Linked DNA regions of Homo sapiens: region 1 is linked to region 2. The links come from fine-mapping of genetic effects on gene expression. Tissue or cell type: whole blood. Region 2 holds a variant in brackets; the other region holds the start of a gene. All regions are shown on one strand. Distances are from middle to middle.

What was found. PIP is the estimated chance that this variant, and not a neighbour inherited with it, causes the effect.
Region 1: it holds the start of LRRC47, and the variant in region 2 is fine-mapped to the expression of LRRC47 in whole blood (GTEx, PIP above 0.99).

What each region holds. Positions count from the first base shown.
Region 1 is chr1:3,794,153-3,799,152 of GRCh38, forward strand. LRRC47 (leucine rich repeat containing 47) reads right to left here and starts at 2,346. Exons shown (of 7, transcript NM_020710.3): 1 at 1,710-2,346. The coding sequence starts at 2,324. RefSeq lists a silencer at 1,908-2,117 and an enhancer at 2,233-2,527.
Region 2 is chr1:3,771,841-3,779,965 of GRCh38, forward strand. It overlaps SMIM1 (small integral membrane protein 1 (Vel blood group)), which reads left to right and starts at 909. Exons shown (of 4, transcript NM_001288583.2): 1 at 909-948; 2 at 1,223-1,341; 3 at 3,459-3,643; 4 at 3,955-4,116. The coding sequence starts at 3,534. The coding sequence ends at 4,081. LRRC47 (leucine rich repeat containing 47) reads right to left here. Exons shown (of 7, transcript NM_020710.3): 7 at 6,719-8,125. RefSeq lists a silencer at 316-1,195, enhancers at 1,257-1,772, 1,773-2,288, 3,028-3,172, 3,321-3,836, 3,752-3,811 and cis regulatory regions at 3,116-3,132, 3,124. The variant A/G (reference allele first, on the strand shown) is at 3,124.

The sequences.
Region 1 (5,000 bases), 21 kb after region 2:
CCACTGCACACCAGCCTGGGAGACAGAGCGAGACTCCATCTCAAACAACAATAATAATAACAGTAAAACTCCAGTCTCCACTTTAGCTGGCTCTACATGTGTAAAACTTTCTCTATTGCAACCCTCCTGCCCTGATAAATCAGCTCTATCCGGGTAGTGGATAAAATGAACCCATTGGGCAGTTACATCAGTAACCATGTGTCACTCTACAGTGGGTTTGTTTTTTTTGCCACAGGGTCTCGCTCTGTTCAGGCTGGTATCACAGCTCACTGCAACCTCCACTTCCTGGGCTCAAGTGATCCTCCCACCTCAGCCTCCCGAGTAGCTGGGACTACAGGCACGCGCCACCAGGCCCAGCTAATTTTTGTATTTTTGTAGAGATGGGGTTTCACCATGTTGGCCAGGCTGGTGGTGTGACCTCAAGCGATCTGCCCGCCTCAGCTTCCCAAAGTGCTGGGATTACAGGTGTGAGCCACCGCGCCCGGCCAGGGTTTGTCTATATATCCTTATATAGATATGTTACTTGTAAAATGAGTTGCAATGTCTTGAGGAATTGCTACAGCAAATAAATAGATAAGCTGCTAAAGTGTATACGTATTTTATTAAGAAATGTCCACATAGGCCAGGCGCGGTGGCTCACACCTGTAATCCTAGCACTTTGGAAGGCCGAGACAGGCGGATCACATGAGGTCAGGAGTTCGAGACCAGCCTGACCAACACAGTGAAACCCGTCTCTACTAAAAACACAAAAGTTAGCCGGGCGTGGTGGTGTGCGCCTGTAAGCCCAGCTACTCAGGAGGCTGAGGCAGAAGAACCGCTTGAACCCGGGAGGCGGAGGTTGAAGTGAGCCGAGATCGCGCCACTGCACTCCAGCCTGGGTGACAGGACCAGACTACATCTCAAAAAAAAAAAAAAAAAAAAGAAATGTCTGCATAAATTCAAAGACGAAAAATGGGGGAAGAAATGCAGGACTGCCTTAAGGATGAAACCAAAAGAGAAGATGGAGAGAACATCTGGCTGGGTTTAGGTCGTGGTTCTGCCATGTGGCTTCCCTACTTTCTTTTAGGCAACAGATTCAATGGGCACCTGTTATAGGCCAAGCATTATCGCGGGGCCTGGGGATCCAAGATTAATTAGTAAACAGACGCTGGACAATATAGTCTGGAGAAAAACCCAAGTTACCTGCTGCTTACTTTGGGCAGGCCCTTTGGCTTTCTGTAAAACAGGAATAACCACCCCTACCTTGGAAAGCTGCTATTAGGATGAAGTGAAATATAATCTTCAAGATCACAGCATGTGGCATTATGCAAAATCCAGGGTGCCCCCTTCACCACCAGACTCACTCTCAAGTCACTTCACAAGTACTAGATACAAAAAAGACAGGTCTCTACGCTCGATCTACAGGAGAAGCCAGGTTTGCTAACAATTACAAAATAGCGTACCACGTGTAAAAGTCCAGTTAACAGAATGCGGGGGAGTTCAGAGGCCACCTAGTATGTTGGTGTGGCCAGGAGAAGGGGGAGTTGGAAGGCGGCATCTGCTTCCCAGGGGTGATGCCCCCCGCAGCTGGCTCCTTTCAGCCTTGTAGGAATTCCCTGGGCCCAGTGCCCCAGGGGGCGTCACTAGGAACTGCTCGGCCCCGAGAGGGGTTCCTTCTCCAGGGCTACTCCAAGGCCCCATCCCGCCCCGCCCGGGCAGCCCCCGCTGACCTTGAGCGAGGCCAGGTGGGCGATGTCGGGGCTGAGTTCTCGGAGGCAGTTGTCAGCAGCCGCCAGTTCACTGAGCAGGGGCAGCGCGCCGGGGCGAAAGAGCTCGGCGGGAAAGGAGTCTAGGCAATTGCCGGTGAGGTTGAGGCTCTGCAGGCGCGGGGCGCAGCGCGCCAGGTCGGCTGGCAGCTCGCGCAGCCGGTTGCCGCTGAGGTTGAGGCTCTGCAGCTGCGGAAGGCCCGGCGGCTCGGCGGGGCCCAGGCCTTGGCCCGGCGGCAGCGCCTCCAGCGCGTTGCCCGACAGGTCGAGCACCCGAAGGGCAGGCAGCGGCCCGAGCTCGGGGCTCAGGCCGGGCCCCAGCGCGTTGCGCCGCAGCACGAGGCTGTGCAGCTGCGGCAGGCCCTGCGCCAGGCCAGGCCCCGGCGCGCGCAAGCTCCCGCAGCCGCTCACTTCCAAGTAGTGCAGCAGCGGCAGGGTGAAAAGCCGCGGCGGCAGCTGCCCACCCGCCGCCCGCACTCGCTCCTCCAGCCCGGGCCCCGTCAGCAGCAGCTCCCGCCGCCGCTCGCGCTCAGCCAGCTCCAGCTCCGGCCAAGACTCTGACACCGCTGCCGCCGCCATGGCGCCTCAGCTGCTGGCAGGCACCCACCCACCAGGGTGCTTCCGGGGCAGCGCGCGCCACTTCCGACCTGTGCCGGAAAAGCCCATAGAGAAGCCACCTGGCTGCTAGAGTGCCGCCGCGCGTGCCATAGAGGAGAGTGGCCTCTCCTGCGTAGAGCCGGGGAGGGGCTGGAGAGCGGCTCGCTCTCTCCGCGGGTAGGGGTGAGGGTGGGGGTTATGAACCCAAAAATATCTGAGACAGGACTCAATGAAATGTAAAAAGTTTATTTTGCCAAGGTTAAGGACACGCCAGTGTCACAACCCTAGGAGATCGTGACGATGGTGCCCAGGGAAGTTGGGATGCAGCTTGGTTTTGTACATTTTGGGGAGACGTGAGACATCAATCAACACGTGCGAGTGTACCTTGGTTCAGCCCAGAAAGGCTGGACAATTCCAGGAGAGGGCTTTCAGGTCACAGGTAGAGAAGAGACCGGAGGGTGCATTCTTTTGAGTCTTTGTTCAGCCTTTCGCTGACTGCACAATTTATTATGCATGTGAGACGCGGGTAGAGGAATAGTCGCTTATGCTTTAGTCTGGCTTACTGAATCTTCATTTCTACGTAAACAGTAGAGCAAAGGAAGCGATCAGATATGCATTTGTCTAGGTGAGCAGAGGGATGGCTTTGAGTTCAGTCCTTTGTCTCGCACCTGTGAAGGGAAGCTATCAATTTGCATTGCCAGGGTGAAATTCAACAGAACTGTTTTAGGGTAAAGATCTTGAGGCCCACAGAGAATTTCTTTGTGGGCAAATTGTGAGGGAGGTGTGTAGCTTTAAAAATATGTATTTGTAACTATCTTATTTAGGAATAAGACGGGAGGCCGATTTGCCCGAAGCAGTTCCCAGCTTGACTTTTTCCTTTGACTTAGTGATTGTGGGGTTTTGAGATTTATTTTCCTTTCACAGGGTGGGGTGCGGGCGGATGGAGGAGCCAGAGTCTGTGCTCTACTGTGCCCCGACCGGCTTGTTTTGGAATTCCTGCACTTTTGAGTGGTGTAAACCAAAACCAAAATTCTTTTTTTTTTCTTGAGACGGAGTCTCGCTCTGTCACCCAGGCTGGAGTGCAGTGATGCTATCTTGGTTCACTGCAACCTCCGCCTCCTGGGTTCAAGCAATTCTCCTGCCTCAGCCTCCCGCTGGAACTACAGGTGCATGCCACCGTGGCCGGTTAATTTTTATATTAACCGTGTTAATATAATTTTTATATTAACCGGTTTTCGCCATGTTGGCCAGGCTGGTCTCGAACACCTGACCTCAGGTGATCTGCTCGCCTCAGCCCCCCAAAGTGCTGGGCTCACAGGCACAAGCCACCGCACCCAGCCCCCAAATTCTTATTTATTTATTTATTTATTTATTGAGACAGAGTCTTGCTCTGTTACCCAGGCTGGAGTGCAGTGGTTCCAGCTCGGCTCATTGCAGCCTCAACTTCCCTGGCTCCAGTGATCCTCCCACCTCAGCCCCTGAGTAGCTGGTACCACAGGCATGTGCCACCACGCCTGGCTAATTTTTGTATTTTTTGTAGAGCTGGGGTTTTGCCATGTTGCCTAGGCTGGTCTCAAACCCATGAACTCAAGCAATCCACCTGCCTCAACCTCCCAAATTGCTAGGATTACAGGTGTGAGTCACCAAACCTGGCCAAAAAATAAAATTCTAGAGGCTGGGCACGGTGGCTCATGCCTGTAATCCCAGCACTTTGGAAGGCCGAGGCGGGCGGATCACCAGGTCAGGAGATCGAGACCATCCTGGTGAACACGGTGAAACCCCGTCTCTACTAAAAATACAAAAAAAATTAGCCGGGCTTGGTGGCAGGCGCCTGTAGTCCCAGCTACTCGGGAGGCTGAGGCAGGAGAATGGCAAGAACCCAGAGGGCGGAGCTTGCAGTGAGCGGAGATTGCGCCACTGCACTCCAGCCTGGGCGACAGAGTGAGACTCCGTCTCAAAATAAATAAATAAAAATAAAATAAAATTCTAAGCCCCCCAACCATCTGAGTGGACCCCTCCTCTGGGCCAAGGGCATTCCCTAGTTAATCTGAAAAACTAGTTCAGGCCATGATGGGAAGGGTCGGATGTGGAGGGGTAGGGGTTGGACATGCCTCATTATATTCTCCTCCCTTTGGGAATTCAGGCCCACCTGACCATCATTAATATCAACACAGACTTTAAGACTGACAAAGCCAGGCCAGGTGTGGTGGCTCATGGCTGTAATCCCAGCACTTTGAGAGGCCATGGCGGGTGGATCACTTGAGGTCAGGAGTTTGAGACCAGCCTGACCAACATGGTGAAAACCCATCCCTACTAAAAATACAAAAATTAGCTGGGCATGGTGGCGGGCGCCTGTAATCCAAGCTACTCGGGAGGCTGAGGCAGGAGAATTGCTTAAACCTAGGAGGCGGAGGTTGCAGTGAGCCAAGATTGCACCACTGCATTCCAGCCTGGGTGACAGAGCGAGACTCCATCTCAAAATAACAACAACAATAAAAGACTGACAAAGCTGACTCTTTGTAGCAATGATACCAAATTCTAGCCTGTTTCTAGTAGAGCATTATGTGACTGATCAAGGCCCTGAAGGAAATTGAAGTATTTTACCCCAAATTATATTTCCTTGCTGTATCTTAAAACAATCCTGCAAGGCTGCCTATT
Region 2 (8,125 bases):
AGACCTCACGCCTGAGCAGAAGGGGTCTGTGACCTTCTGCCCTGGGGGCTCTCCTGGCTGGGGCACTCTCTTGCTGGAGGACCCCTCTGGAAGATGGTGAGGGTGGGGGGCTCTGTTCCCATCCCCCCGCTCCTGGAAGGAAAGCTTTACGCACGGGAACGGTGTCTGTGGTCCCCGACGCTTCCCCGGCGCCTCTGAGGCTCTGGGCGCCTGAACACCTTCGGAAGGGACTCTCCCCATTACCCTTCTCTGCTCCCCACCCACACCTGCTTCCCTTCCCGCCGCGAGCACCGAGCGTGGGCCACGTGCGGGCGCCACGCCCCTCAAGCCCCGGAGGAGGACGGTCCCCGCGGCCGGGTCCCCGAACCCAGCATTCAGGCCCAGACGCGCCCAGAGCCTCCCGCAGTCTCGTCGGCGCTGCAGCCGGGTCCCCGCGGGGCTGGGAGGCTCGTGGCGTCGGAGGGGCTCCAGCAGGGGTGAAGGAGGTCGGGGACCCTGGAGGCCCCAAGGGCGAGCCGTCTGGGGGCAGAAAGTGCAGCCCTCTGCAGACCCTGCCCGGCCCCCCTGCACCTCCTGGCCCCGGGGCTGGGCGGCCTAGAGCCCCGGCCCCTTCCGGACGAGGCGTCTCCCGGCCCCACTCGCCCCGCCCCCAGCCCCTTCTGGACCAGGCGCCTCCCCGCTGCGGCCCTAGCCCTTCCCCGCATGGCCCCGCCCCCCTCTCGCCCCGCCCCCTCTCGCCCCGCCCCCGGCCCCTTCTGGACCAGGCGCCTCCCCGCTACTGGCCCCAGACCTTCCCCGCATGGCCCCGCCCACCACTCTAGCCCCGCCACCTTCCGGACCAGACACCTCCCCGCTGCTGGCTCCAGCCCTTCCCCGCGTGGCCCCGCCCCCGCCCTCGCCCCCTGCCCAGGCCCGGCCCCTGCGGAGCCCAGAGACGCGGGGACACAGGTGAGGCGCGCGGGGTCCGGGCTGCGGCTTCCCGGTGCGGCCGCAGTGGGCAGGTGCGACTGTGCGCGGCCTCGCTGGCTGAGAACTGGCGGGGGTGGGGGCGTGCCCTGGACTGACCCCCACCGGCCTAACCCGCGGTGCGGGGCCAGGGCCGGAACTGCCCGCCCGGCTCCTTGCCCGGCTCCTTGTGGCTGCTGGGGACCCCCGACACCAGCCACTTTCCCTTCCCGGCCCTTAGCAAGATCGGCTTCTCCGGTCACCTTTATTTTTTTAGGCTCGAGGCGTCTGCCGCACCTCAGCCCACGACCTGCCCCGCTGGGAGGTGCGGGCCGCTGGCCAGGCCCTGACCGCAACCTGGCCCAGAGGCCCCAGCCCTCAGGCAAGGTTCTCCGGGTAAGTGTGGGGCCCTGAGGCGCTGTGGGGTGAAGAGGTCTATGGAGGGGCGCCTGTGTACCTAGGGCCTTCCTGCACTCACAAGCCCCCAGGAGGTGCCAGGATCCGGGAGCCTCCCAGGGCCTGGAGGGGAGTCCCTGATGGGTTCCTGCCGCCACACCTGTGACCATCACATGAGTGTGGAGAGACGTTTACTGAGCAAGTGAGGGAGGCCAGCCTCAAGGGCCGGCTCTGGTGGCTGTGCACCGGGGTGACTTGGGAACAACGTGTTCTACGTCAGCAAGACAGGAACCCATGATCCCAGAGTTGAACACACTGGGCTTGACCCCTCCCACCGGGAGGCCCATGGTGGGCTGCTGCTGTGGACTTGGAGCCTCAGCACTCCCGAGACTAATGCTGCGTGGATGTCGGGTTGCAAGGCGGCTGCTGCAGCTCCAGCAGCTCCAGCCATCACGTCGAGTCTGGAAGAAGGAGGTGGCTGCTGCTGCTTTCACAGAAGCAAACTCTCCCATCCCCTGCTGCACCCTGGCTCCTGGACCCCAGCTGGGTGACTTGGGAAAGCAGGGGTGGTGGTATTAAGCTTGTCTTACCCGGGTCATGGCTGTTACCTGGGGCTGGCACATTGCTGCTGGGACCAGAATGGGATTCTGCACACCAGGCAAGAGGGCGTGAACCTCGGGTAGGCAGCTGACCGCTCCACATGCTCCGGGAAAACAGCACCCATACTCCAGTAGAGGCTGGGCCTCTCCGGGCCTGAGTGCCAGGCTGCACTGAGCCAGGGCTCCCACCGAAGGCACACTTTATGGCTTTGAGACAGCTCCTTCTGCCTCTCTGGGCTTTGGGGGAAGGCAGACATGGAAGTGCCGGGAGTCTCAGAACTGCCTGGGGCCTGAGTTTCTGAGCTGGCTTCTTGCAGGGGAGTGGCTGCTGTGCCTTTAGGCCTCTGTGCCGATGACCTGGGAGGAAGGTCAGCCTTCCCCGCTGGAGGGGGCCCAGCAAAGCCTCAGCTCCTAGAAGTGAGGGGCCTGCCATTGCCTGCCCGAGGACCCCACTCCTGGGGGCCAGATGCTGAGAGGGGACACTGGGGGCCCAGCAGACCAGAGAGCTGACCCCAGTCCCACAGCCTGGGTGGGTTGTCAACTTCTCGTGCCCCCTCCAACTCCTCCACCCCCACACCCCCTTAGGTAAATAGGAGGTCGAAACAGAGGCCAGAGGGTAAAGGAGGTGCTTAGAGTCCGGGCTGGCTCAGGCCGGCCGGGCAGCTGTGCTAGTGCTTGGAGTTCCTGCTCAGTCCCCGTGGTCTCCTCGCCCCTCTGGGCACTTGGGCTGCCAGGCACCGAGCTGAGTGCCGAGATGCAAAGATGAGTCCCAGGTCTGCAGGAGTTGGAGCCCAGCAGGGAGCTGGCCTTGGGGCCGGGCCCCTCCTGCTCTGGGCAGCCACCCAGCCCTACGACCCTCCTGTCTCTGTAGGGCCTCCCCAAGGCCTTGAATCCACCCCGGCCCCGTGCTCAGTGCATCATGCCCCCCAAGCCCCAGCCCTCCTAGAGGTGTGGGTGGGGGAGGGGCTGCAACCCACACAGGCTGAGGACACAGCTGCTGCCACTGCCTGGGGCCAGCCACGCATCCTCCCCAGACAGGGACCGGTCTAGCTGTACCAGCCGCTGCCCCGGACCTGCTGCCCTGCCCCACCCCCCCCTCCCCTGGCCAGCCTCCCCAGAGGCCAGAAGGCGCCTTATCGGGCAGGGTTAAGGAGGGGGACAGTTATCAGGGGCTGCAGCCTAG[A/G]TTGGGCCACAATGTCCTCGTCTCTTGAGGGTGGCAGGCTGTGCAGGCTCCCTGATAAAAGCACCGGGGAAGGGAGGCTCCTGGAGTGTGCTGGAAGGAAACACTGGCCTCCCACATGCCTGAGGTCAGGGCTTGGCCTGAGATGGAATTCTCGCTTGGTCCCATCCTCCCGGCCTGACCCTGGGCAAATGACTCTACCACTTTGTGTCTAGGTCACCTGTTAAGTCAGGCGACAGACCCGGTGAGGGAGTCAGCCCCCGACCCTTAGTGCCCCTCTCCTAACAGCAGCCTCAGAGGGGGTCTTGACTGCCGCCCTCCATCCGCTTGTTTTACAGTGAAGCCACAGCCTGGCCACCTGTCTTGATCTCCCCACCGAGAAGGCCCCGCCCCTCCCGCTGCAGCCCCACAGCATGCAGCCCCAGGAGAGCCACGTCCACTATAGTAGGTGGGAGGACGGCAGCAGGGACGGAGTCAGCCTAGGGGCTGTGTCCAGCACAGAAGAGGCCTCACGCTGCCGCAGGTGAGGGGCCTGAGGGCAGCCTGCCAGCCATAGCAGGCTGGTGTCTCCCTCCAGAGACGCCTGCCCTAACCCCTGCTACCGGCCCCATCACCCTCCACCCCATCCTGGCTGGGAGCCCACGGTCCAGCAGCTCAGCAAACCGCAGCCTTTGGCCTTCCCTCTGGTTGGCTGTGGGCGGGGAGAGCTTCCTCTTGACTCCAGCAGAGCGCCCAGGCCCCTCCCCCTGACCCAGACCAACGGCCACAGTCCACTTAGGGGGCCCCTCATGCGGCCCTGGCCTGGGGCTCACCTCCAGTTGGTTCTCACCCCAGGATCTCCCAGAGGCTGTGCACGGGCAAGCTGGGCATCGCCATGAAGGTGCTGGGCGGCGTGGCCCTCTTCTGGATCATCTTCATCCTGGGCTACCTCACAGGCTACTATGTGCACAAGTGCAAATAAATGCTGCCCCGCATGCACGCGGGGGGCTGGCCGCACACGTGAGAGCACAGGCCTGGAGACACACCCCTTGTACACATGGACCCCCCCACAGACACGGACCCTGCGGCACACACAGCGCACAGGGCACACGCGCTGGCAGCCAGGCACACGAAGACACCAGGTGCACAGCTGTCATCGGCCCCACACGGGGGCGCACAAACACCTGGCACACAGCCCTTCAAAGGACCTACAAACAGCTGGGCACACGTGGCTGGGAGGCCTGGGCCCAGCCTCAGCAGGAGCTGCAGGACACACCCAGGCTGGGCCCTGCGGCCTGGAGCCCCCAGCTACAGCCTCCTCTCTCCCAGGGCCCAGCCCCTTCCCTTGTGAAGGCCAGGATGAGGGGTTCCTTCAGCGGACAAACCGAGCCCACCTCCCTGGCAGCCCCCCGGGGTGGGATCCTCCCGGCTGCTTTCCTCCGTGGGAGCAGTGTGCAGAGCTGTGTGGCCCTGGGCAGGCCCCTGTCCTCTCTGGGCCTTTCTGACTCCTGGTTTTGTAAGGGTGGCTATGTGTCCCCCGCCCTTGTCTCAGATGCACCATATCTTCCTTAGTAAGTGGGCACAGTTCTTCCTAGGCAGCCCACCACGCGCAGAGGCTGGGTGTGTCCCTCTTGGGGCCGGCGGCTGCCAGGGAGGACCCGGGTCTACCCTCCCTCCCCAGGGATGGGCCTGGTCCCTCCAAGTACTCCTTGTGGGCCAAGAGCCTGTGTACAGAGGCATTAAGTGTCTGTTGAATGAACGGTGGATGACAGCCCTTGCCATAGTTACCTGGCCAGGCGTGACATCCAGGAAGGCTGTGGGAAGGGCTTGTTTCCCCGGGGCAGGCCCCCCTCCCATGTGGCTCTAGGAATGCACCCCTACCAATTGGGCCCTCTGGCGAGGACAGCCGGCAGGCCTGGGGACCCGGATGTGGCTGGACCTCAGCTGTGTCCCAGGGACTTCGGTCCCATTCCCCCCACCCCGATCCTGGCCTCCAGTCCCAGCCCCCGGTCCCAACCTCCATTCTCTTGGTAGGTGCTTTCCTGGGTCTTGTGTTTGGCCCTCACCTACCACAAAAGATCCCAAAAAGCCTTGCCAGAAACATCCCCTTAGGGAAGGGGTCCTCACCCCAGGGCTGGGGGTGGGAGACACGGGCAGCCACTATCCTCACGGGCACAGAGAAGGGAGGCCACAGGGCCAGATGAGGTTATTGGAGGGCTGAGGCTGCGCCTGCCCCAGGCCAGGTCCCGCCGAAAGCATCAAGTCAGGTAAACAGGAGGGGCTGCGCCAGTCTTGGTAGGGAGGCAGACTCCACATCATCCGCCTTTGGGGCGAGCAGGCTCACTTGAGATCTGCCTGGGCCAGCCGGTGGCAGGTGGAGCTGCATGGCTGATTGCACACTGCCCCAAGGCTCCTGGCTCCAAACCCAAGGAGGGAGCCCAAGGGCCTGTCCTGGGCTGCGGTCTGAAGCAATGATGCTTTCCTGGGAGCCTGTTGTTGGGTGGGCTGCTGCCTGCCCCAGCCCCATGACAGCCTGGATCTTCAAAAAGAGATCCCTACCTCTGACCTGCCACTCCCAAGGAGGGAAAGGAGTAGCCAGCTGGTACCCTCCCTGAAGCCCAGCTTCACAGGACAGCACTGCCTTGGGGCTGCTGTAAGGAAGTGGCAGAGGCCGCTGGGCCCAGCAGTTTGGCTGCATGGGCCCCAGAAGGCAGCACTCCGACCTGGGGGTCCTGGGGCTGGGCCTCCCCAAGAACTGGTGCGGCCCAGGAGACAGGCGAGGGCACAGGATGGGGATGGGAGCTGTCCCAGTTCTACAGTCAGAGGGGAAGTGGCCCTGGTGCTTCTGCCACGGGTCCCGCATGCCAGTGATGCCCACGCACCCCCACAAATGCTCCTTCCCACCTGTCAGGGGCTGGCATCAGATGGCACAGGCGCATGTCGGGTCTGCCCTGGATCTGTCTGGCTGCATCTGGGTCCGCCCTGGCAGGGGCCCAGCATCTTCAGCCAGGGGCTCCACCAGCAGCCCTGCCAGCCCCAGCAGGGGAGGCTACAGGCAGACACCCACGGGTGCTCATTGGGCCAGGCACTCAAGTAACCCACAGCCGCCTCTCGGGCACACCACTTGTCCCCTAAGTGACCATGGTGGAGACAGCAGCTCCAGCCCCAGTACCCCCAGGGTCATGGACCTAGGCTGAGCTGAGCAGTGTCCTTACAGCTCTGGGAGGGTTGGGGAGAGGATGGGACAGGACCCTGCTGAGTGGCCGCCTGGCCTACCCTCCCAGAGACTCACGAACAGGAGGATCTGCTGTGGATGCGTCTGGGGCCTGGGCTCCTCTGACTGTGCACCTGGGGTATCCAGGCAGCCCGACACCTCTGGTCCACCTTGTGCTCCAGGCAGGGGCCCAGCAGGGTGAGGCCAGTTCCCAGGACCCCTGGTCAAGGGCACCAGCTTCCCCATGACAGTGGCAGGTGCCTCTTGCTCCCTGCTGGCAAGATCTGGGTGGGGACAGGAGGCCCTCAGCCTCCCCACATAGAAGCCACCACTGGGCTAGAGTGAGCTTTGTGACACTTCGAGCAACAACCTCTGGCAGTGCCGGTGGGAAAGGATCTGCTGGGCCAGGTGCGGAGCTGTTTTTATTAGTGAGTCGGGGGGTGGGGTGGGGTGAAGAAAACATCAGAGACACCTGTGCTGCGAGTTAAATACATTTCCAGCATCTCACGCATCACAAGCTGCATCAGGAAAGGGCACAGCATGTGGCAGCCTCATCCACACCCACGCAGTGACAGATGTGTTACAGCATGGACACCAAGTCCCCGGGAGCCAAGATGGCAGCTCCAGCATCCCTCCCTTCCTCCCTTCCTCCTTCCCGGGCTGGGCCGGGCCATGCAGAGAAAGGGCAGCCTCTGCCATGGCAGCCCCAAATCACCTCTCAGAGCAACTGTCTGGGGTCCCCAGCCCCAGAACTCCAGCAGAGTCCTGGCCTGGGGAAGCCCCCGTGCCGCCTCAAGCCTCCAGCAGGGCAGGCCCCTGGCCAACTGTGGCATCTGCCTTGACTGCCCAGAGCAGCAGGAATCAGGTTTTGGGAGGACACAAGGCAAGGCAGTCATCTGACACACCCACGGCAGTCCAGCTGGCACTGAGTGTGTGGGCCTCGTCCTGTCTGGAGTCCCCTCCCTCCCACAGTGGGCGAGACGGGAAGGCCTGGCGGTGACCAGACAAGTGGGTCCAGGTCTCAAGGCAGCCTGGCCCATGTCCTGCAAGGCTCTGAAGAGCCACCCAGCTGTTAGTCTGCCCACTGCACAGGGCCCCGGGCCTCTCAGGTTGACAACTAAAGGTGTGTGGGCTGTGGGGCTCTTGCAGATGCTTCCCAAAATCACCAGTCATTTCTACAGACACAGAAATCGAGACACTGAACAGAGAACAAATGGTGTCATTCGATAAAGCTGATGAGTCTGCTTCTCACATGGCACCCAGATCGTAAGGCAGTGGGGTCTGTAAAATCATCGCGGTGGCTGGCCGTGTCCTCATGAGCCAAGCACACTGACTCCCGGGAGTGGTGTGCACGCACATGTGGTGCCTGGACATACACGAAGACACATGGACGTGGGGGTCTGACCTGGACATTCACAACGGAAACGTCTACAACAGAAGGCGCCCAGGACCCACCTTTCTGGCGCATAAATGAAGATTTTTGGCTCAAAAACCTAAGCATCCTCCAGCTTTTGCTACCATCTGTCCCTCGGCTGGCTGAGGACTGCCGATGCTTCCCAAGCAGAGGCGTCTGGTCCACTCCTGGGGCTCCACCTGCCTGTCACTGCAGCACCAGCGTGCACACGATGGAAACCCCACCGATGCCGCTCTCCTCCGCTTGGCCCCGCTGAGCCAGGGTGAGGTGCTGCCACTGCCTTCAGCCTACAGGCTGCTTGCCTGAAGGGGTCTCCACATCTCCACCCCCACAAAGCAATCCAACAGCAGTATGAAGAGACGCAATTCTGCCAATTCTAAGGTCACATTAAAACTTTT